2 separate regions of the Homo sapiens genome follow, and region 2 is linked to region 1. The links come from fine-mapping of genetic effects on gene expression. Tissue or cell type: whole blood. Region 1 holds a variant in brackets; the other region holds the start of a gene. All regions are shown on one strand. Distances are between the middles of the regions.

Evidence for each region. PIP is the estimated chance that this variant, and not a neighbour inherited with it, causes the effect.
Region 2: SPTLC1 starts here. The variant in region 1 is fine-mapped to the expression of SPTLC1 in whole blood (INTERVAL, PIP 0.94).

What each region holds. Positions count from the first base shown.
Region 1 is chr9:92,129,926-92,142,259 of GRCh38, reverse strand. LINC00475 (long intergenic non-protein coding RNA 475) reads right to left here and starts at 793. Exons shown (of 4, transcript NR_027341.1): 1 at 610-793. It also overlaps the pseudogene LOC100128076. RefSeq lists enhancers at 1-507, 508-1,087, 1,667-2,246, 7,882-8,121, 7,726-8,357 and a silencer at 764-943. The variant C/G (reference allele first, on the strand shown) is at 5,676.
Region 2 is chr9:92,109,034-92,121,367 of GRCh38, reverse strand. It overlaps SPTLC1 (serine palmitoyltransferase long chain base subunit 1), which reads left to right and starts at 5,955. Exons shown (of 15, transcript NM_006415.4): 1 at 5,955-6,054; 2 at 8,806-8,913. The coding sequence starts at 5,998. It also overlaps the pseudogene MTCO3P29, the pseudogene MTND3P23, the pseudogene MTND4LP7 and the pseudogene MTND4P15. RefSeq lists an enhancer at 5,393-5,452.

The DNA of each region.
Region 1 (12,334 bases):
CCTGGGGGAGCCGGGAGGCCCCAGTAAAGGGAGATGGTGCTGGCAGAGTCCCTTTCTGAGGAGACAAGAGTGGATAAGGCCCCCCTCCCAGCTTCTGGGACCCCCCCCCCAAAGAAGGCCACCCAGCCTCAGTGTGACAGCCCTGTTGTCCTCACCATGGCAGAAGAACAGACATTATTTCCACCCCACTGGGGCACGCTCCCCTCACCTCCACCTCCAGTTCTGTCAGCTTTACCCTCAGCCACCATCCTGGGCACTGCTCTGCTGGAAGAGAATGCAGCAACAGGAGATGGGGGAGCCAGCCCCGCGCCCTCCCGCTTAGGGTCCAGAACCCACCTTGCCAAACCTGGGCTCCCGCAGTCAGCCCACAAGCACGGAGGCCAATGGGGAAGCCAAGTCAGGGAAGCCTGGTCTCCCTGCTCGCCTGATATTTAGTCTCAGACTCTTCTCCCCTCCCCAGTCCCGCAACGGTCAACTTGGAAGGGGGTGAACCCTCTCCGGGATGCCCACGCCCCAGGGCACCAAGCAAGCAGGTGTCCTGCTGAGGCCAGGACTGGGTGCAAGCCAGCAGCCCGCAGTACCAGGTGGAGACAGGCGGGCAGTACTCACAGGTAAGCCGTCAGGGGATCCAGGTCCCCCGGTATGGCGGACAGCCCAAGCTCAAGAGCAGTCGGCAGACAGCATGATGCCGTCCTCCTGGCAGTGGCAGGGGGCCGGGCAGGCGGTAGGCCCCGGGCCGGGCTGGGGGGCGCAGCCGGCGCTCGGGGAGGCGCACACAGCGGCGCGAAGTCACAGCGCCCGGAGCCTGGGCGGGTTGGGCATCTCGGCGGCCGGGCTGCTGGGTCACCTGGCGGCCAGGCGCGCAGACGCACGGGCGCGGTGTCCGCAGCTGCTTTCTCCCGGTCCCGGCGGGCTGCGCCGTCGGTGGGGACCGCCCCGGGGGCTCTACTGGGCGTCGGCGGCGGGGCGGTGCAGTCAGAGAGGAGCAGGCATTGTTGAGTGATCTTCGTTATTCAGTTTCACAGGCTGGGCTTGGCAAGGGAGGGAGACCCAGCCGGAGGAGGAGTCAAGGAAACTTTCTACGCTGCGGCTAGCTCCCTTCCCTCCTTCCTTCGGAGCTGGCAGGAATTTCATTCAGGAAAGATAAAAAAAGGAAAAAAGCAAAGAAACCCAAGCGAGCAAAGCTCAGCCCGTCAGAGACCTGCACTTGTTTAGAAAGGGTGTCCCAGGGCCTTGGCTGCAGGGCTGGGGACCCTCTTGCCTTTGGGGATAGCCACGGGGTCACATGGGACCCAGAGGAGATCTCTGAAAGAGGCCTTGGGGCTCTCATAGCCCCTCATGCCTTCACCACGTTTCACACTGGAGGAAACAGAGACCCAAGAGGAGAAATGATTTGTTCAAGGTGACACAGCTGATAGGGCATCCCCAGAGCTGGAACTCGTCAGCCCTCCTCGGCCTTATCCTAGGACAAGAGAGAGGGGAGTGAGGGGCTACCCTGGAAGAGGCCAGGCTGCGGAGGGTTCCACTGCAAGCTGGGATGACCCGGCAGTGGGCAACCAGGAGCAGTCTCCTCCCTGAGAGGTCGCGCCTTGACTCCAAAGAAACGGGTGTGGAGTTCCACTCGCTGAGTGCACCCTGGGTGGAAATGCACTCCTGCAGCCTCTGTCAGGTTTACTGTCAGGTTTACGGGGACCACCTTGATCCCTGCTCCCAGGACCTCGGCAGGCTGAGGGACTGCGTGCAGCTCAGCTGCTTGTCAAGAGGCCACCTCAAAGTAAGCAGATTGGCGCCACCTGGAGGCCGGGTGCTGCACCTGCAGCTCGGCCACCCTGAGGCTGGAATCCCACCAACTGGCTGACCTGGCCGGCCCCAGAGCCCTGGTGAGCAAAGGGCACGGTGGTTAAAACTGAGGCCAATCCCTGTTCTCTCCTTAGACCATAGTGAGCTGGCTGTGCTTCCTTCACGCAGCCTCTTGCTGTCTCTGGTCTCTCCCATGCTGAGCCAAGCCCCAGTGCAGAGCTAGAGCAGGCTGTGGGCACCCCTCCTTCCTTTTTTGCCCTGTCTCCCCATGGTCCAGCCAGAGGGTATACCAGAAACCTGGGACCTCAGAGGCATCCAGGATTTCTTCCACCCTGTCCTTCCACATGCCAGAATCCTCTCATCAACACCTCTCCACTCTCCGATAACCTCCCAGGGCTAGAGGGGCTGCATAGCCGGACCAAGAAATGAGCAGACCCTGACCCTAGGCCTCCCGTTGGTGCCATGGCGCTGAAAGTAGAAGATGAGCCTCCTAAGAAGGCTAGAGGATGGGCCTACATGACCAGAAAGACTCACAGATAGAGCCACCTTTGCCCTATGGCAGAAAGCTACCACAGGCCAGCCTGCACTTCCTTCACTCAACCATAGCCTTGGCTCCATCTCATTTGCAGCTCCTGCTGCTCCAATGTGAGATTTTCCCAGAGTGGAAAAGCCATGGTTGAGCCCTGTTGCAACCTCAGCAGCAGCTGCTTGAGACAGACTTGGGCAGCTCAGAGCAGAGCCTCCAGCCTGCTTTTGTGAGGGTCATTAGGGGGCCCACCCTCAGCTCCTGATAAACATGGCATATGGAGGACACCGGCATTTAGTCCTCCTGGGAGGGCACCAGTGCTTTAGTCTCGTTCTGGGAAAGCTCCCGGCTGAGCAGCCAGCACGACCTCTGTACCCTTCTTCAACCAGGCCTGAGAAGGACCCTCCTGACTTCTGACCCGTTGCACCTTAGTAGGAACTCAGGTTGGCCAAAGAGCTCTCCCCGCTTCCCCTTGGGGAGACCCGACTCCATTTCAGGGACTCTTGCTCTGATCTTTCCAGGCTTTCTCTGTGTCCTCCCAGGGCCTTCCACCAGGGGCAGTTAGTGTCCAGCATCAGGCACTGCACCTGGAAACTCCCAGCCTGACCAGGGAAGCAGGCAGGAGCTCATGTGGCCACCAGCAATCATGCACATGGTATGCAGTGCAGTCCTACAGTGTGTGGGACAGACAGCTGCCTCCCCACCCTCTTTTCTGGTCTCTGCTGCTCCTCCTGGTTTTTCCTTTCTCCATATGCCTTCCCTGCTTTCTCCCCCACCTCTTATGTAGAGGGGAGGAAGAAGGAGACAGAGAAGGAGCAGGGAAAACTTGGCACCTCCGCCTGAGGGGTGCCTCCAGCACCTGCCTTCCGAGTAACAGGGTAGCTCTGGCACCTCCATCCTGGTGGGGGCTGAGGGTGGCCCCTGGGGGCTCTGGCAGGTAGAGAAGGCTGGGGATGGCAGGAGAAGGGAAGTGGGAAACAGGATAAACCCTACTGCATACAGCATGGTGCGTACAGGGTGATGAGGCAGAGGACAAACAATTTGGAGCTGTGATTCTGAATCCAGGGCTTAGCACCACAGGAAACTAGACGTGGAGAGACCAAAGTCTGAGGAAATTTAGAAACTGGAGGATTAGCAGGGAGAGGATTGCTTCAGGGGAAAAACCAACAGCATAGGGGCCATAGGTCACCAAGTTCAACCAGACTCCAGGTCCTAGCTTCCATCCCGGCTCCATGTTTGCCCACGAGACCCACACGCTGGGCCCAGGCCTGAGGATGGACAGACAGAACACACTGAGCTTCAGGCTTGGCCACAGGTCTTTATTCCAAGACCCTGTACCTTCCCAGCACAGGGCCCAGTGGAGGCCGCCCTTCCAGGGAGCCCAGGCCCACGTGGATGTGTCAGGAATGCTGTCCCCATCCCACAGGGCACAAACCTCTCCTGCACCGTGACCAGTGCTGACTCAGGGCAGCCCGTCTGCCAGCGCGCTGTTCAGACAGTTGTAGAGGTAGACATACTGCTTCTGGAGATGGACATAGGGTTAGGAGGCTCGCCCCGCCTGCCCCAATCTAACAGAAAAAGGCTCCCTTGTGTCCCCCAACCCCTAGGGCTCCATCTGGGAGAACGCACAGCGGTCCACAGCGCCACCTGGTGGCTACCCGGGTGGTGCTGCCTAGAGGCCTGGGCAGAAGCTCCCTCATCCCCCCGCCCCTTCCCACAGCTGAGCCCCCACGCCAGCCCGGTCGCCCCTGGTCGCCTCTCACCAGTGTTGGGGTCATAAGGCCACAGGCCTGAGACTGCTGCAGGGCCACGTTAAAGATATCCACGGTGCACTCAGACCCTGCCTGCTGCAGCAGCTGCTCCATGGCCAGGAAGGTGCCCAGCTGGGTTGCACCCTTGCTGCAACTGACCTAGAGGTGGATGAGGTACCTAAAGGGGGTGTGGCGGGGGTGTCCACGGATGTGGGAAAACCCAACCTGGGCGCAGGGACTGAGAAGGGACACCGGACACTTGGTCAGCCGGCCAGCCTGGACCTAGGGAGGGAGGCGGTAAATTCCCACCATATTCCTGAGGACAGGGTAGGGTGTGGAGAAGACAGGGGCATTGTGAGACTGTGTCCTTTTGACCCATAACCCAAGCAGAGCCCAGGGAGATCTGAGGCTATGCCAGAAGGGCAGGGAGGGGCTTCCAGTGTCCGCTCCCCCAAGACCATTGTCCACTCCCCCAAGACCATTGTCCAACAACACTTGGAGTGGCTGAGCAGTGTGCCCGGCTTCTTGTTGTTGCCCCGAGAGCAGCACTGGCCCACAGCAGCCAGGAAGGGCAGCAGGGTGGTGGCGGGCAGCTCATGCCCAGGCTCCAGGTATGGAAATTGCAGTCTCTGCACCTCCCTTTCCTTCCTGCTCTCCCCCTGTGGCAAAGACATGATCAGCATTGGTGCTGGAGAGGGCAGAGGAAGCCCACACAGGACTCTTCCCCATGCACCACCCCATGCCCTGTGGCCCCAGCACCTACATGTGTGACCCTGAGGAGGGTACAGAACCAGCCTGCTGTGCTGCTCTCAGCCACCCAGTGCACCGTCACCATGTCTGTGACTACGGGCTGCATCTCCGTTGGCCAGAATTCCTATGGCTGGGACCAAGTTAGGGCTGCTCAGGCAACTTCCTGAGATCTCTGCCCCTGCCCTGGTCACAGACAGCACCACAAACTACCCGCCTCCATCCTCACCCCTAACTCCTGAGCCTCCCTTCCTCTGTCCTCTGCTCTGTCACCTTCTCCATGACATTGGGTGGGCAAAGAGAGACAAGCACATGAGCCCTGTGCTGCCACACCAGCTCCCAGAGCTCCTTTGGCCCTGCGGGGCCAGTCAGCACCGTATGATCACGGCCAGAGGGCCCACCCTGCAGAGCACAGATCATTGGCTTCCAGAGACTGAAGGTGCCCCCTGCCCAGTCCACAACTCTGGGAGCCCCCAGCAGCCCCAGCCCGGGAAGTACAGGTGGTCAGAGAGGGCAGGAAACAGTGGCAAAACCAGCATCATCTCACAGGGAAGAGCCAGGCTTCGGGCATGTCGTCAGGGGGGCTCTCCTCCACCGGAGAAAACTGCCCCTGAGAACGGTCATCTGAGGGAAGACAGTGAGGGTGAAGCTGCCAGAGGTCCCCAGCCCACGCTGGCCCCCTGCCCCTCCACAGGGTCCACAGTGAGACTCACAGGAGACGGGGCTGTCCTGCTCATAGCCAGGCGGGGGTGCGGAAAAGCCAGCCTCGTCCTTGATGGCCTACAGCAAGAGCTGGGAAGGAGATGGGTGCCCTGAGGCTGGGAGGTCTCACTGCAGGGTTGGCTCAGCAG[C/G]GGAAGGCTGCCCTTGGCTGTCACCCACTTCCCGGCCTGAAGTGTACCTCGTACTCCTTCAAGAAGCCAGCATTGGCACTGGCTGCCCTCTTGGCACACGCCTGCGGGAGGTCCGTCACAGAGATGGGCCAAGACCTGGTGGGGGGGTTGGAGAGGGAGAAGGCACTCAAGGTTCCCCAGCTCCCCGTTCTAGTCCGCTCAGCTCTGCCCACGAACAGGAGCAGGGAGCCTGCCTGTGGGAGGCACAGGGAAGCTGGGACTTACTCAGAGATGTTGAAGGGTCCTTCCAGAATCTTGTTCAGTAGGCAGCTGTGCAGGAAGACGTACTGGCTCTGCCAGGGGAAAAGGCATCAGGCTGCTCAGCGAGGAGCGAGGGGGGCCTGCAGGGAGATTTTTCAGGCCCTGACCAGCAAGGCAGGGATCAGGTAGGAGGGCAGAGGGAGCCACTGAGAAACCTTCCCTCCACCGTCCCATGGTGTCAAAGCTGACAGGATCCTGTCCCACCTCCCCTTTCACAGAATAGAAAGCACAGCCCAGGTAGGATGGTGATGTGTCTGAAACCCTCTCCCCAAGGTCTTCTGTGTGCCCCATGAGCTCTCTTTCCTGGTCCCTCCTGTAGCCCTGTGGCCACCCACCTCCCTCCCACTCCTTCAGGGTCCCAGCTGCCCAGCCCAGCCTGCAGGGCCCTCACCAGGGTCTGGATCATGAGGGGCTGGTGCATCCGGAGTGCATACACAGCATGGAACACGTCTACCATCTGCTCCTCCTCCAGCTGCTGCAGCAGCCTCGACAGGGCCACGAAGGTGCCTGTCCGGCCCATGCCCACACCGCAGGGACAGCCCCTGAGGAGCTGAATGGGTGAAGAGGCTGCCCATGTCCCCAGCTCTCCCCACAGTCCAAGAGCCCTCCATGCCCCCAGGCCAGGCAGGGGGCTCTCCACCCTATGCACTCACCTGCTGTCACCTGCAGTGCACCAGGATGGGTCCCACGCCCTGGGTGGCCCTTGCCTGCTACTGTACCAGCTCCATAAAGGCGAGCAGGGAGCTGGGAGCCTCAAGGATGCTGTGGTCGGATCAGGTGGTGAACTGCAGTTGCTCCACCCTCCGTTGATGTTGCTGGACAACCTAAGAAGGGGGTGGGAAGGGGACAAGGGGGCAGAGGGGCCCTGCTGCTGCTCCTTATCTTCCTAACTCCAGGTTCCCATGGCCCAGATCTCACACTTTCTTCCCCAGCTGCCTAAGGGCAGGGATGATGCAGACCAACTGTTCCTTGAGGGTGGCAGCTATGTCTCCCCCATCAGGATGCTTCCTGAGCCCTCAGGTCCTTCTCTAGCCTCCTGGGTAACCTCTGCATATAGAGGGTGCCTGGGCAGAGAAGTGATTCGGGTCTCTGGCTTTCCTGCCCCAGGGGTGCACAATCTGGGAAGGAAGATGGGCACAGGGGGCATGGGGTGAGGCAAGAGCCCTGAGCTGGCATGGGGGAGGTCAGGAACCATCATGTCTCTCCTGTTCTTCCTTTCCCTCACTGTGCAGCCTCAGATAAACCCTTAATCTTCTCTGTGCCTCTCTACCCCTTCCCTAACACACTCTTCCCTGGGTGGTGACTGAGTACTTGTGGTCCTCCGAAAGAGAGGGCTCCAGGGACCCAGGAAGTGAGGCAACCTTCTCAGGGGTCTCAGCTCTAATGCCTGTCCCATCCCCTCATCCTTGGGGCACGCACGTGCTGCAGCTGGAATTCCCGCTTGGTCCACTCATCCTCAGGCTCCTCAGCTAGGAGGTGGATGGTGATGTGACCATGGGTGTCCGGGGTAGAGTCGGTCAGCCAGTAATGCTCACACAGCACCTGGGACCAGAAGGTTGGAGAGGGGAAGGGCGGCTGTGGGCCCAGCCCTATCACTGCCGCCCCCTGCTTTACTCAGTCCCACCCCTCCCTGCCCACCTTTCTGGTCCCTGCCACCCTGCTGGGATTCTGCTCTCTGTAATGACCCAGCTCCAAGGCTTCCTCCTCCAGGAGCTGCTCTCCCTTGCCTGGGCTCCGGCACCCTTGCCCTCAGACCTCTCATGACTCTCAGGATTCTGAGTCAGCCACAAGGTTCCTGTGCCAAACAGAACAGCCCTTATTCCGCGGCCAGCGGCCCTGGGCTCACTGCTCCAGCAAGAGGACAGACTCGGCAGCCTCTCTGCATGTCCTAGGGCCCTGCATCTGCCAGGCTTATCGAAAGGAAGGATCCCTGATGGTACCTTTGACACCGGCCCTGGGCAGTCCCTACCCCTTGATGCCTTCTCTGCCCAGGGCAAGAAGCCCGTAGAAACAAAGCCAAGCTGGGAGTTTACATACCTGTTTCCTCCCACTGCCTCCCCATCCCAGGTCTGGGTGGGAGGTGGGTCCACTACCCTCCAGGCCTGATTGGCCTCACTCCAGTCTGCCCCGCCTTCCCACGGGAAGATGCCAACGGGGCCATCCCCACAAGGAGAACGTGCGCCACCTGGTGGCCTTTCTAGGAGCCTGCAAGGCGCACTCACCCTCCCGTTCTCCATGCTGATGGTCGGCATGATGATGATGCGGACCTGCTGCTCCCGCACCAGCCGCCAGAAGTTCTCCAGTGTTTTCTTGAGAGGCCCCTGAGAGGCAATGAACTCCTGTGGGCGGGTGTAGCCCTGGGGTGTAGGAGGCAGAGATCAGGAACATGGTTAACGGGCAATGCTTGGTGTCAAGCACACAGCAGATTTCCAACATTTGACCTCCAGGAGTGAGGATGCTGTGCACACACCTACATGTGTGCACACACAAGAACACGTGTGCACCCAGAATGCAAACCAGAAGGGCTGACTTCAGAGACATCACCCCCGTCCCTGTCCCACCCCAAAGGGACAAGAAAAACCCCAATGAAAACAAGATACTGACATGAGTTAAATAGCCCATCTAGGCCACCCTCTTCACCCACCCAGAGTTACCTTCCTAAAACCAAACTGCGTTTCTTCCATGCTCAAAAATCTTCTATGGCTCCCAATTGCCCACCAAATAGAGTCCAAAGCCCTCAGCCTAACAATCAAGCCCTCCTTCATTCAGCCCATTCAGCCCCAGGCTATCTTTCCCATTACATCTCCCACCACCCAGCACCTCCCCACTCCCTCACCCCTACGCACCCCCCACCACACACACACACACACACACACACACACACACACACACACACACTCTCACACACTGCCTGAACGTTACTGCCTGGCTGTTCTCTGGCTGCTTCTTCCAGTCAACAGAATGTCCTTCCCTCTTTCATCACTTATCAAAATGTTACTCATCCTTCAATAAATCAAATGTCCCCTCCTCTGGGAAGCCTTTCTTGATTCCTCAGGTGGATGAAATTTCCCCTTCCTCCATGTGCCCTGAGTAGTGTTTTTTCCTCTATTACAGCCCTTGTCACAGTGTGTGGTGAATGTCACACACATGCCTACATGCTCCTTTGAAGGTGGGGAATGTGGCTAACAGCTCTGCCTCCTGCAGGCCCAGCACAGAGCCCAGCACACAGTAGACCCTTGCTAGACACCTGCTGGATTGAGCTCATGAAGCCCAAGCTGGTGATCTCCTAGAGAGCTGTTACAGCTAATGAAGGCAAGTGTGGCCTGCAAACCAGCCCATCTCCCGAGCAGATCCCAGATCCCATGGACAGCCTCACCGGTGGCCCTTACTGGGACCAAGTTGGCATTGATGTAGTCAGAATGAGGCTCTCCCTCCAGCTGGGTCAGCCTGACCCTGGAGTGGTCATCTGCAGAGAGTGAAAGCTGTGCATTCAGGGTTGGGCACATGAAGCCCCCTGCTCCCATGCCAAGCCCTAGCCCTCTGCCATGCCTCCTTTCCTGCCCCCAGCACTCACAGGGTAGCACATGTGGTTAACAGTTCTTGGTGGTGTTGGCAGGGTACTCAGCCTCCAGTCTGGGCTGCTCCTTGCTCACCTCCTTCAGCTCCTGCAGGGATCAAGGGCAGGCACTGGTTGCTGAAGTAGACCGATCTCACCCCATGCCAGGAAAGGGGCAGTGGGGGCAAGTGTGCAACTGGGAGTTCCCTCCAGACCTTCAGACAGGTCCCAGTCTTCCCTCCTCTGAGCTCACGGGTGGTAAAGGCCTCACCTCGAATTTCAAAAAGAAAGCCTGGTGCGCATGAGCACTCTTGGCCTCATAGTTCTGCCTGAGGCCACAACGACCACAGGCTTATGTAACAACACTCAATCCCATTTCAATTACTGAAAGCCTTCTCAAAAAGGATGGATACAAACACTCCAGACTACAAAGATTGAAATAAATACCTAACTCTTCAATGCTCAGATATCATTGAACATCCACAAGAATCAAGAGCATCCAGGAAAACATGATCTCACCAAATGGACTAAATAAGGCACCAGTGACCAATTCTGGAGTGATTAAATTATATGACCACTCAGACAGAGAATTCAAAATACCCATCTTGAGGAAGCCCAACAACTTCAAGATAACACAGACTAGGAATTCAGAATTCTATCAGATTAATTTAATGAAGAATTAACATTTAAAAATCAAGCAGAGGCCAGGCACAGTGGTGCACGCCTGTAATCCCATCACTTTGGGAGGCTAAGGTGGGCGGATTACTTGAGGTCAGGAGTTCCACACCAGCCTGGCCAACATGGGGTTTAGTAGAAACCCTATCTCTACTAAAAATACAAAAAATTAGCTGGGTGTGGTGGTGCATGCCTGTAGTCCCAGCTACTCAGAATGCTGAGACAGGAGAATTGCTTGAACCTGGGAGGCAGAGGTTGAAGTGAGCTGAGATTGCACCATTGCACGCCAGCCTGGGCAACAGAGTGAGAATCTAGCAGAAATTCTGGGGCTTAGAAACTCAATTGACAATCTGAAAAATGAATCATAATCTCTCAACAGTAGAATTGATCAAGTGGCAGAATGAATCAGTAGATTAAAAGACAGGTTATATGAAAGCACACAGTCCAAGGAGAAAAAAGCAAAAATAAATAAAAGAGAAGGAAGCACTATTACAAGATCTAGAAAATAAACTCAAAAGGGCAAGTCTAGTAACTACTGGTCTTAAATAGGACGTAGATGGAGAGACTGGGGTAGAAAGTTTATTCAAATAAACAATAACAGAGAACCTTCCAAACTTAGAGAAAGACATGAATACCTAGGAACATGAAGATCAAGAATACTTAGAATATTCAAGCCAAATAAAATTACCTCAAAGTATACAATAAGCAAACTCTCAAAGGTCAAAGATAAAGAAAGGATCCTAAAAGCAGCAAGAGAAAAGAAGCAAATAACATAAAAAGGAGCTCCAACACACTTGGCAGCAGACTTCTCAGTGGTAACCTTACCAGCCTGAGGAAATAGAATGACATTCAAAGTATCAAAGGAAGAAAAACTTTGGACTAGAATATTATACCCAGCAAAATTATCCTTCAACATAAGAAGAAATAAAGACTTTCTCAGACAACAAAAGCTAAGGGATTTTGTCAACACCAGACCTGTTTTACAAGAAGTTCTTCAATATGAAAGAAAAGGGCATTAATGAGTAACAAGAAAGCAACTGAAGATATAAAACACACTGGTAAACTTAAGTACACAGACAAATACAGAATAGCCTAATACTGTAATTGCATTATTTAAACCACTCATATCATTAGTAGGAAGACTAAAAGACAAATCTATCAAAAACAATAATGACGGCCAGGTGTGGTGGCTCACACCTGTAATCCCAGCACTCTGGGAGGCTGAGGTGGGTGGATCACGAGGTCAGGAGATCAAGACCATCCTGGCTAACACGGTGAAACCCCATCTCTACTAAAAATACAAAAAATTAGGCGGGCATGGTGGTGGGTGCCTGTAGTCCCAGCTATATGGGAGGCCGAGGCAGGAGAATGGCGTTAACCCAGGAGGTGGAGCCTGTAGTGAGCCGAGATCATGCCACTGCACTCCAGCCTGGGTGACAGAGTGAGACTCCATCTCAAAAAAGAAAAAAAAATGATAATAATAATGACAACATGGGAGGCGAGGTGGGTGGGTCACTTGAGGTCAGGAGTTTGAGGTGAGCCTGCCCAATATGGCAAAACCCCATCTGTACTAAAAATACAAAAATTAGCCAGGCATGGTGTTGCACACCTGTAATCCCCACTACTCAGGAGGCTGAGGCATGAGAATCGCTGGAACCCAGGAGGCGGAGGTTGCGGTGAGCTGAGATCAGACCACTGAACTCCAGCCTGAGCGACAGAGTGAGACTTGACCTCAAACTAATAATAATAAAAACGACAGTTTCTTAAGAGATAGATGATATAAAAAGATATAATTAGAGAAACCCTCCCCCCAAAAAAAGGCAAAAAAACAGCCATTGAGGCAAGGGAAGATGGAGTAACACTGTAGAGTTTTTTTTTTTTGAGTTTTCTCTTTGCTTGTTTGCTTTTTTTCCTTTTTTCTACTCAGTGTTAAGTTTTCATCAGTTTAAAATAACTAGTTATAAGCTGTTACTAGCAACCCTTATAATAACCACAAAGCAAAGACCTAGAATAGATACACAAGAAATAAAAAACAAGAAATTAAAACATATTACCAGGGAAAATCACTTAAAAGGAAGACAGAAAGGAAGTAAGAAAGGAAGAGGACCAACAAAACAACCAGAAAAAA
Region 2 (12,334 bases), 21 kb after region 1:
ATGGAAAGTTTGAGTAGAACAAAAAAGCAGAGGAAGGGTACATTTCATTCTGTGTAAGCTGGGACATCCATGTTCTCCTGCCCCTGGACTTTGGTCCTCCTGGTTCTTAAACCTTTGGGCGAGGACTGAATTACACCACTGATGTTCCTGGTTCTTCAATTTGCAGATGGCAGATTGTGTGACTTCTCAACTTCCATAATCATGTGAGCCTTTTTTTTTTTTTTTTGAGACAAAGTCTCGCTCTTGTCCCCCAGTCTGGGGTGCAGTGGCATAATCTCGGTGCACTGCAACTTCCGCCTCCCGGGTTCAAGCGATTCTGCTGCCTTAGCCTCCCAAGTAGCTGGGATTACAGGTGCGTACCACCATGCCCAGCTAATTTTTTGTATTTTAAGTAGAGACGGGGTTTCACTATGTTGGCTAGGCTGGTCTCGAACTCCTGACCTCAGGTGATACACCCGCCTCAGCCTCCCAAAGTGCTGGGATTACAGGCATGAGCCACTGCGCCTGGCCAAGCCAATCATTATAATAAATCTCCTCTTATGTAGAGATCTATATATGTTTTATTTATCCTGTTTCCCTGGAGAGCCCTATTATACCCCAGAGCATGTCAATGTGACCTTATTTGGTGGAAGGGTCCTAACAGATGTAATGAAGGATCTCAAGATGAGATCATCCTGAATTATCCAGGTGGGCCCTAAATCTAATGAGAAGTGACTTTATAAGAGACACAGAGGAGAGACACATACAGGAAGAGATGGCCATGAAAAGATTAAGGTAGAAATTACAGTGATGCTGCCACAAGCCAAGAATTCCTGGAGCCACCAGGACCTGGAAGGGGAAAGAATGATTCTCTCCTAGAGCCTTCAGAAAGAGAGTGGCTCTGTCAATACCATGATGTTGGACTTCTGATCTCCAGACTTTGGAGAAAAAAATTTTGTCTGTTTTAAGCCACATAGTTTGTGGCAATTTGTTATGGGAGCCCTAGAAAACTAATACAGATTTTGGTACCAGGAAGTGGGTGCTACTTTAATAAATACCTCAAATTGTGGAAGTGACTTTGGAACTGAGTAATAAATAGAGGTTGGATGGTTTTTGAGGTACTTGAGAGAAAAGTCATAGAATTTCTTGAAGAGACTGTTAGTGGAGTTATGGATTTTAAAGGCAATTCTGGTGAGGGAACAGAAGGAAGTGAAGAGCATGGTAGAGAATTCTTCCATCATCTTAGAAATGTATATCTCATCATGAGCAGAGTGTTAGTAGAAATACAGATGTTAAAAGTGGTTTATGTTGAAGGCTAAGAAGGAAATGAGGAACATGTTACTGGAAACTGAAGGCAAAGTGATCCTTGTGACACAGTGGCAAATAACTTGGATGAATTGTGTCCTTAGGTGGACAGCAGAATTTGTAGGCAATGAACTTGGATATTTAGCTGAGGAGATTTCTAAGCAAAGTGTTGAAGATGCAGCCTGGTTTCTTCATGCTGTTTGTAATGAAACAGAAAAGGAAATAAGCAAATTGAGGAAGGAGCTGTTAAGCAAAAAGAAACAACACTTGATGATTGGGAGCTTCTCGGCCTATTCAGATTGCAAAAGATGCTAAAATTGGGAAACTCACTGTTGGGAAAGTGTACTCTGGATACAGGGCCGAGGGTGTGCCTAGACAATATTGTGCTGAAGAGATCTGCTATACAACTGATGGATCCCTCAATTATCTCACGGATCCAAGGATAGATCCAGCGTTATCCAGGAAAGATCTGTGGGGGTTCTTTTATCTAATGGCATGGATCCCTGTGACATACATGGGAGCCTCAAAAGTTCTTGAGAAGGTTGTACCAGAAGAAACACTGTCAGCTTGGCCTGAAGGGGCTGAGACAGGACAAAGTGAAAGAGAGGCTGTCAGATATGCACAATTCTTCAGGCAAGAAGAGGACTGATAGAACTACTCAGGTATCAGCATGTGCTGCCCTTCAAGAAAAAGGAAGAATCACTATGAGGACAGGGTCATGGGCACAGGGGTAGAGGCTGAATGTTCAAGAGCAGAGACCTACCAAGTTGCCATGAGCAAAGAGGCCTATGAAGCCATGAGCCCAAAAGACACAGCTTCAAGCCACAGAGGATTATTCCCAGACCTTGAAACCAAATGACTTTGCCTTGTTGGATTTCTAACTTGCTTGGGATTGATGACCCTTTTATTCCTTCTAATTTCTCTGCTTTGCAGTGAGATTGTCTATCATATACGTGGCCCACCTTTGTGTTTTCGAAGCAGGTAACTTCTTTTCTAGTCTCACTAGTCAATAGATGCAGAGGAATTTTGCCCTTGCATAGCTCATACCCATAGACTCACCTACACCTGATTATTTATATGTGAATATTTGAGACTCTTTGAATTAATTTTTATGATATTTAGGTGAGAGTTAAGACTTTTGGAGATGTTGAGACGGAATGAATGTATTTTGCACATGAGGCAGATGTGAATTTGGAAGGCCAGAGGTTGGACTATAGTAGGTTAAATGGTAGAGCCCAAAAAGACATGTTAACATTCGAATCAGGGAATAGAACCTGGGAACATGGCCTATTTGGAAAAAGGTTCTTTACAGATGTAACTAAGTTAAGGCTCTCGCTGGAAGAGGCAAAAAAAGTCTTCTCCCCCCAGAGCCTTTGGAGGGAGTATAGCCCTGTCAACACCTTAATTTTGTACATCTGGCCTCCAGAAATGTGACAGAATAAATTTCTGCTGTTTCAAGGCACCCAGTTTGTGATCGTGTGTTACAGCAGCCCTAGGAAACTGATACAGAGGCCAAGCAAAAGTTCCAAATCAAGCAAAGTCCCACGGTGTATTCCTTCCAGTTATCCCAAAATATAACAATCCCAAAACAGTGGCTTAGAACAATAACAATCGTTTATTTTTGCCCACACATTTGGGTGTCATCTGGGCTTAGCTAGGCATACCTCACTCAGGGTCTCTCAGTGGTGGTAACCAGATGGTGGCTGGAACTGGAGCCACCTCGAAGGTGTCGTCCCTCACACGTCTGGTACCTGGACTAGTAAGACTCAAACAGCCAGGGACTGGGGCAGCTGGGGCCCCTTAGTCATCTCTTTCCCCTTCTATGTGGTTCTCACATGATCTTTCTACATGGCAGCTGTATTCTCTTATAGAAGCTGCCACAAAGATATGCCTTTTGATGAGTGTGTAAAAGAATTTGCAGATAGTACCATTGACTCAGAATTGCAGAGAGTATGGTGAAGTTCACCCCTCAGAGTTGTCTTGCTAAGTAGGGCAAGGAAGCTGCAATATTTATATCCCAGCTACCATCAGTAATCCACACTGGTAAGTACTGCCCAGGAGAAGATACATTCTCAGATACTTCCAACTCTCCAGGAGAGCAGGAAACGTGGGAATGGCAGCCTTCAAGGGGGTCCTCTGAGAAATGCAGGCGTGGCTGCTGGAAGGAAAGCACCCGGGGGAGGAAATGCACGCAAGCACAGGACTGTGAGCAGAGCACTGACACGGACTCCATATCGCCAGCTTATGTGGAAATGTAGCACATAGTGTAGCGGCATCATTATCTGGGGTAATACCTGAGGTTCATTGTCCCACAGCCATGGAAAACTAGGACGCGACACACCACAGTGAGGTTAAGAGCAGAAGTTTAATAGGCAAACGAAAGAGAAGAGCTATCTGTGCAGAGAAAGGGGTCCCAGAGAAAATGGGTTGCCAGTTCTGCGGTGAAACGCACAGGGTTTTATAGATGAGCTTGAGGAAGTGGCGTTTGATTTACGTAGGGAATGAAAGACTGGTTGGACCAGGTGTGCCATTTGCATAGTGCATGAAGAAGCTGGCCTTCCCACCCTAATATTTTATTCTGCAGATGGCTTCTCTACCTGACTGATGCCATGTTGCCTGTTCCTTCACTGTACACGTGGTGACAAAGAAAATGGAAGATGGAGTCTCCATATTGAACATACCTGGCTTCCAGGTAGTCTTTTTCTATCGGCACAACTGCCAGCATTCTCCCGTGCACTGCCAGCTTGCTTATCTATGTTTGTAGCTCAATTTTTCAGGCTGCTCTTTGCAAAAAAGAAATAATTTTGGGGTTGCTTTTTGTTCAGAAAGAAGCTCTGCTGAGGACTCTCTTACCTTCACTATCTGCCTAAATAATTTCTTTTTGGCTCCTGTATCAATAGCACTGGTACCATTTCAGAATTCTGGGGAAAGTCAGGGTTACTCAAATAAATGGCACTCAAAAAATTGTTATTCCTTTAGAAAAAAACATAATTAAGTCCCTTAACTCTCATTATCCAAAAATATAGTTTCCAGAGTAAAGAGCTAATTGCAAATAACAACAAACTGCTGCAAGAATGGTTGGAAACCATAGATGTGGTGAAGAAGGCCTTTCTAAGCAATATGCAGATCCAGAGGCAAAAAACAGACTGAAGCACTACATAAAATTTAAAATTAAAGTATGATGAAAGAGCAGAAACAACTAGGCGGCAACTGAGCAAAAATATTTTTCACATATGAAACAGAAAAATATAAGATATTCAGAATGTATAGAGTTCCTACAAATCCATAAGAAGGCAAAAATAACCAATAGAAAAATGGATTAAGAATATGAATTGGCGATTCATACAGTCTATAAATGCCAATAAACATATAAGAAGCTGCACAACCTCATGAGTAACCAGAAGCATCAATAATAAAGGATAGTGAGGTATCATTTTATCTCCATTAAACTGGCAAATTTTTTTAAAAGATTGATAATATCCATCATGGACTAGAGCATAGAAAAACTTCCAAATTATTTTAATTGGTTGAGCCATTTTGGCAGTACTTATCAAAATTAATAACGTGCATAGTCTTCAGATATATCCCATGTTGAAAAAACTGGTCAGAAAAACTCCAACATGCACAGAAAGATATACACACAAGGAACATCGACAGTTATGGCAGCATTATTTGTAATAGGGGAAAGGTGGGAACAACATAAGTATTCACCAATAGGGAAACGTTTACATAAAATGGAACGATGAATATACATAAATTATTCCATGGAAGTCTTCAGCCATTAAATATGAGATATATTAGGAAAAAAATGCTAGAAAAAAAATTTAAAAAAAGTTGTAGAAAAGTCTTGTCCCTATGATCTCAATTATATTTAAGAAATCCAATCCAATTAAGTATGTGCGCGTGCATACTGTTTGCATATGCATTGGAAGGCTCTAAAAGGTTCTTTACCAAACTGCTATATGATTTAATACCTGCAAAGCCTTGGCCTATGTCTGACAAAACAGGAAGTGCTATATGGGTTGGCTATTTTTGTGTATAATTATGCATTTCTTAATGATAATGCATTGCTGGATTACTTATGCTACTAAACGTAAACGTATTGGCCAGGCGCGGTGGCTCACGCCTCTAATCCCAGCACTTTGGGAGGCCGAGGCAGGCGGATCACCTGAGGTCAGGAGTTTGAGACCAGCCTGACCAACATGGAGAAACCCCGTCTCTACTAAAAATACAAAATTAGCCAGGCGTGGTAGCCCACGCCTGTAATCCCGGCTACTCGGGAGGCTGGGGCAGGAGAATCGCTTGAACCCGGGAGGCGGAGGTTGCGGTGAACCGAGATCACGCCATTGCACTACAGCCTGGGCAACAAAAGCGAAACTCCGTCTCAAAAAAAAAAAAATAAAGTAAACGTATTGCAATCATTTTAACTCTCTGCGCCCAGCTGATGACCAAGTGTAAGGCCCGTTCATTACTACTTTCTCCATCCTGAATCCAGCAGGGAGGGTAATAGGACACAAGGTAAACAATTCTTGGAAAAACTGCGGCATCCCACCTGACCCCGTCCAGCCTCCTGTCAACCAGTGCGCAAGTGCGAGTAGGCGGTGCCCAGCGCTCCGCCGCCCCGCCCTCTGCGGAGGTGATAACGACACTGAGCAGCGACGCGCACTTTTGGGACGCGCTTGTGACCCGCCTTCCGGAAGGAAGCGGCTAACTATGGCGACCGCCACGGAGCAGTGGGTTCTGGTGGAGATGGTACAGGCGCTTTACGAGGTGGGCTCCGCGCCATTAGCGGTCCGCGACCACACCCGGGCCCGGGGAGGGTGGGAGGACGCGTGTGGATTTGTGGCCTGAGACCTCGGCGGGACTGGCTCGGTCACGCCCAGACTCGGTGCCTCTTGCTGGAAGGACTGCCGGGAGCTTCTAGTCCCAGCGGTTGAGTGTAGGGAGGAACGGGCGGGGGCGGGGGCTGGGACTGAGGGTCTCGGTTTGAATTCTTATGCTCCGGGTCCCCTGGAAGCTCCGGAAAGGAACACGTGTAAGGGGACGCAGGAGACAGGTCTGCAAAAACCAGAGTTTAGACGGACGATAAAACGGAGTGGTGAAAATGAGTGGAACACCTTCGTCTGGGAAGGTCCTAAGGAAGTCAGCTCTTTGGAACTACGGTACAGTTCGTTGGGGAATAAAATTGTAATAAATTGGAGTTTGTTTTTGTCGAAAAGAAATCAAGTGACTTAGGATTTGTGAATAAAAAATAGTTTGTCATTCTTCTGCGTACATCAGTTTTCTGTCTTATAAAGATACAACTAGTTTAGTCGATTTTTATTTATTTATTTTTGTTTTTTTTTTTTGAGACGGTGTTTCGCACTTGTTGCTCAAGCTGGAGTGCAAGGGCGTGATCTCGGCTCACTACAACCTCCGCCTCCCGGGTTTAAGCGATTCTCCTGCCTCAGCTTCCCAGGTAGCTGAGATTACAGGCATGTGCCACCATGCCCGGCCAATTTTGTATTTTTATTAGAGACGGGGTTTCTGCATGTTGGTCAGGCTGGTCTCGAACTCCCGACCTCAGGTGATCCGCCCGCCTTGGCCTCCCAAAGTGCTGGGATTATAGGCTTGAGCCACTGCACCTGGCCGTAGACTTTTAAAGGAAGAATAGTTAAGAGTTTTTTGAAGCCTAGTTATTTCAGATACATAAGATAATAAGAAACCAGAATGTCAATCTTAGTGTTCATTCATTTAATAACTGAGAGTCCCCGTGCTGTCTTGCAGAGCTATTCATTGGGCACTGAAGAACTTATTTTATTTTATTTTATTTTTTAAAGACAGGGTTTCACTCTGTCGCCCAGGCTAGAGTGCAGTGGTGCGATCAGCTCACTGCTGCGTTGACCTCCCAGACTCAAGCGATCCTCCCACCTCAGACTCCCGAGTAGCTGGGACCACATACCACCATGCCCAACTAATCTTTTTTTTTTTTTAATAGAGACGGGGGCTTGCTGTGTTGCCCAGCCTGGCCTCGAACTCCTGGCCTCAAGTAATCCTCCTGCTTTGGCCTCCCAAAGTGCTGGGATTACAGGCATGAGCTACCACACCCAGCTGCAACTGAATTTTTAATTTAACTTAAATAGCCACGTGTAACTTAGTGACTGTCCACATTGGACCACACAGATCTAGATGCTAGGGATAGTGCGGTGAACAAATAGGCAGAAGTCCCTGTGCTTAAAGAGCTTACATTCATTTCAAGTGAATTTCACTTTACTTTTGATGATTTAATATCACCAAACTTAATATCACCGTCTACTGGTAGGGGTAATGACAGTGTCTTCCATTGCAGGACATACTGGGAATTTTATCTTGAAACAGCAGAGACAGCAGATGTGGCTCTGTCTTATGCTCATGTATTAAGTGATGCCCAGTATTAGGTTAACTGTAGTGACCTAAAATGAGCCACTAAAATTGAATGATCTTTTTTATAAATGATTTTTTAAAGAAATGGATTATTTTCTGTTAAATGTTGTTTGCTCCCTTTTTGAAGACTGACAGTAGTGTAACTTCTCATTCCCCGAAACTGTCCAACAGTGAGACTTGGGAGAACTCCTGTATGTAACATTTCCTGGGAAGGAAAAGAAGTGGTGTTTGTGATTTTTATTAATTCACTAGAGAGAGAGTTTCTCAGCTTTTCTTAGGGTGATTTCTTTTTGGAGTGGGCTCTTAACTAGTGGCTGGGGCAGATGTTTGCTTGCTAGAATCCAACTATTGAGAAAACTAAAAGGGTATTTAGACTTATTCATAAATGAATTGTATTTAGGGGGATGAGCAAATTTTAAAATTCATCATAAACTTCTTACTCCCAAATCCTATGCGTGTTGAATGTAGAATTTGAGTAGTCTTGTATAGTGTACCCAAAAAAGAACCACTGAAATTAAATAATCCGATGGTTAATATTGGGATTCTGTGTTAGATTTTATTTATTTATTTATTTGAGACGGAGTTTTGCTCCTGTTGCCCAGGCTGGAGTGCAGTGGTGTGATCTCGGCTCACCACAACCTCCACCTCCTGGGTTCAAGCGATTCTCCTGCCTCAGCCTCCCAAGTAGCTGGGATTACAGGTATGCGCCACCAGACCCAGCTAATTTTGTATTTTTAATAGAGACAGGGTTTCTCCATGTTGGTCAGGCTGGTCTCAAACTCCCGCCCTCAGGTGATCTGCCCACCTTGGCCTCCCAAAGTGCTGGGATTACAAGTATGAGCCACCACGCCTGGCCTAGATTTTATTTTTTTAATTTTAATTTTTATTCCCAAAGAAGTTTTAAAAGCTAAAAATATTAGGGGTTTTTCATGTGAGGGAGAAATTGCCTGCTATTAGAAATGGGGAAAGGAATGAATAGAAATTAAGGGAGCTTCGAAAGTAAATTGTTAAGAATAGGCTAAAAGTCACAGGAGGCAGTATATGCAGGTGTAGTAAATTTTATGTGCAGGTGTTAGAAGTGTATGTTTCATATCTTACTTGTTTTTGACTCACTCTTAGGCTCCTGCTTACCATCTTATTTTGGAAGGGATTCTGATCCTCTGGATAATCAGACTTCTTTTCTCTAAGACTTACAAATTACAAGAACGATCTGATCTTACAGTCAAGGTACGAAATTAAATCTCTGTTTTAATTATTGGGTATGTGATTATAGTTGCTATGTCTTTCCAGAAAGGATTTGTGGTGGCTCAACCATGTGTGTTAAAGCATTTTCTGTAATGTAAGGAAATCAAGGGGAATGAATTATTAGGGTAGGCAAAATATGGGGAAATCTAGAAATAAAGTCAGTACCCAAATGAAGACCATATTATGGTCTTGGATACTTTGCTAGGAGTAAACAGCAGTCTTGCAAATAGATGGTTAGAGGGAAGCATGGGCAACTACTGGAGTTTGAATATTCATAAGTGTTGTGTGAGTTGCTGCAGAATAGCACAACTATTTCTGAAGTATGGGATAAAGATTCCCCTGTGGTCTTCTTAAAGGAGAGTCAGAGTAGAAAAGAATCCTACTCATACCCATCTCAAATTGAATTTTTATGTGTATGGTAAATCAAAAAAGAATTCTGAGCATAGAAGTTAAATTTTCATAAATTGTCAAGTCACCCACAAAACTACATGGAAAAGAACCTCTAGCTCTAGTGATAAGGAAAGAGGCGAGGGTGGTTAGTGCACAAAACTCACAAGTGATTGTTTTTATTCTAGCCACAACGAGACATGGTATTTCTAGCAGTGTATTCACTGTGACTTTTGCATTGCAGCAGACAATTTTGATATTGCCGAAGTTGAAGTAAAGTGACTGCGCCTGAAAAGCTTCAGGGGGTTTGAATAAGGATAGCTATAATAACAAGTGCTATGTGGCTTACGGAGGAATGAGTGATAAGTGATTTTAAATCAGTTTGTCTTAGACAAATAGAGCTTGTTATAACTATTCCTCATAAGGATAGTATGAGGAAGGGGTAGGATATATATTCTATTAGGGGGCTGAGGATGAGGGTAAGTCATATGATACCGTAGCCTCCTAACTACTGAGCTGGCAATAGAGACTTCTATGTGGGCTTTAGGGAGTCATAGGTGAAGTTCGTATAGGGGTATTTTTACTATAAAAGCCATAATACATGCTAGTCATATAAGGTTGTTAGATCAGAAGTTTAATAGTTCTTGATTAGTAAACATTATTATTAGGATATTTAGTGAACCTGAGCTATTTCAGGTGTGGATGAGTGTAATAAGTAAGGGAAGGGATCCTACTAGTGTGTAAAATAAGTATGAGCTTGCATTAGGCATTCTGGTTGGTTACCTCAGCAGGTAATAATGATTAGGGTAGGGATGAGTGTAGCTTCGAAAAGAATGTAAAGTATGACTAGTTCTGTGGCTGTAAATGCTGTAATTTAAAAAAGTTGTAGGAAAATTAATTTGGAAATACGGAGTTTTTTTCCATAAGGGTGATTCATTAGATAGGTGATGTTGGCCTGCTAGGATTATAAGAGGTAGTAGTCAGGCTGTTTGGATTAGAAGAGGTGATGTTAATGCGTCAGAAGAAAAAGTTAATGAGAAGTTAGATGAATTATTGTTTGGTTGATTAAAAAATAATAGGGTAATGAGGCTGATGAATAGGCTATGAGTAGCTATATTCAGACTATAGAGTTTTTGGAGAGTTATATTGTAACAGTATAATTGTTGGAATAATAATTTTTGGCATTGGAGTAAATTTAGATTTTGTACATAGTCTAGGCCTTATGCGTTGGAGATTGAGACTAGGAAAGCAAGGCCTACTGCGGCTTTGCAGGCAGCAAATACTAAGAGGATAATGGGTATTATGAATCCTAGAGTGAAATGCATGTTTAAAATTATGAGTGTATTTATGATAAATATTGATAGTATGATGCCTTCTAGGCATAATAGAGATGGTATTAGGTGGGATCGATAGATTAGTACTCCCAGCAGTGCTATGGTATATGCTAATATAATGTTAATATAAATAAATGGCATTTGGTAAATATGGTCTATCATAATCTAATGAGTCGAAATCATTTAATTTAAACTATTTACCAGTTCAACTCAATCTAATCCTTTTTGGGTTCATTCATAAATTAGGCCTAGGATTAGAATGGTAATTAGTAGAAGGGTTGTACTGATTATTAGTATAAGGTTATTTGTTTGAAGGGCTCATGGCAGGGGTAGGAATAGGACGATTTCTAATCGAATAGGAGAAATGTGATGGCTACTAGAAAGAATTTTATGGAGAAGAGGAGGTGGGTAGAGGTTAATGGATCAAATCTACATTCATAAAGGCTGGATTTTTCTATGTAAGTATTAAGTTATGCAAGTCAAAATGTAATTACTACTAATAATAGAGTTAATAAAGTGTCAGTTATTAGGGCTAGTGCTAGGTTAATTACTCTTTTTCAGACTTTGTCGAAACTAGTTGATTGGAAGTCAGTGGTACTGCTTATACTAAAAGAGTAGTAGGACCCTCACCAGTAGATAGAGACACATGGGAATAGTCATACGACATCTACAAAGTGTCAATATCAAGTGGCGTCTTTAAAGCCAAAATGGTGGTTGGATGTAAAATGAATTTTTTTTTTTTGAGACAGAGTTTCGCTCTTGTTGCCCAGGCTGGAGTGCAATGGCGCAATCTTGCCTCACCGCAGCCTCCGCCTCCCAGGTTCAAGCGATTCTCCTGCCTCAGCCTTCCCGAGTAGCTGGGATTATAGGCATGTGCCACCACGCCCAGCAAATTTTGTATTTGTATTAGAGACGGGGTTTCTCCATGTTGGTCAGGCTGGTCTCGAACTCCCGACCTCAGGTGATGTGCCCACCTCGGCCTCCCAAAGTGCTGGGATTACAGGGATGAGCCACCATGCCCGGCCTAAAATGAAATTTTAATTGGCAGAGAAGGCAGATGGTGAGAATTGTTGATCCAATAGTAACATGAAGTCCATGAAAGCCTGTGACTATAAAGAATGTTGAGCTGTAGATTCCATCAGAGATAATAAAGGGGGCCTCGAAATATTCTGAGATTTGTGGAAGGGTGAAATAGACTCCTAAGAGGATTGTGGTAAGTAGTGCTTGAATTGTTTGTTTTTGGTTACCTTCTGTTAGGCTGTGATGGGCTCAAGTCACTGAAACTCCTGATGCAAGTAATATAGACGTATTTAGGAGAGGTGCTTCTGAAGGGTTCAGGGGAAGAATAGCTGTTGGGGGTCAATGTCCTCCTAATTCTGGGGTTGGTGCTAAACTGGAGTGATAGCATGCCCAGAAAAAACCGGCGAAGAAGGATACTTCTGAGATAATAGGAGCATCCTGTATCGGAGGCCTTTTTGGACAATTGCTGTGTGGTGGCCTTGGAATGTACTTTCTCGGACAATATCACGTCATCATTGATATATAGTCAGTGTGTTGGTTAGTAGGCCTAAAGTTAAAAGAGTGGTAGAATTAAAGTGAAATCCTATGGTTAGGCCAGATGTTATTAGGAGAGCCGAGAGAGCTCCTGTTAGTGGTCAAGGGCTAGGTACAACTCTATGGTA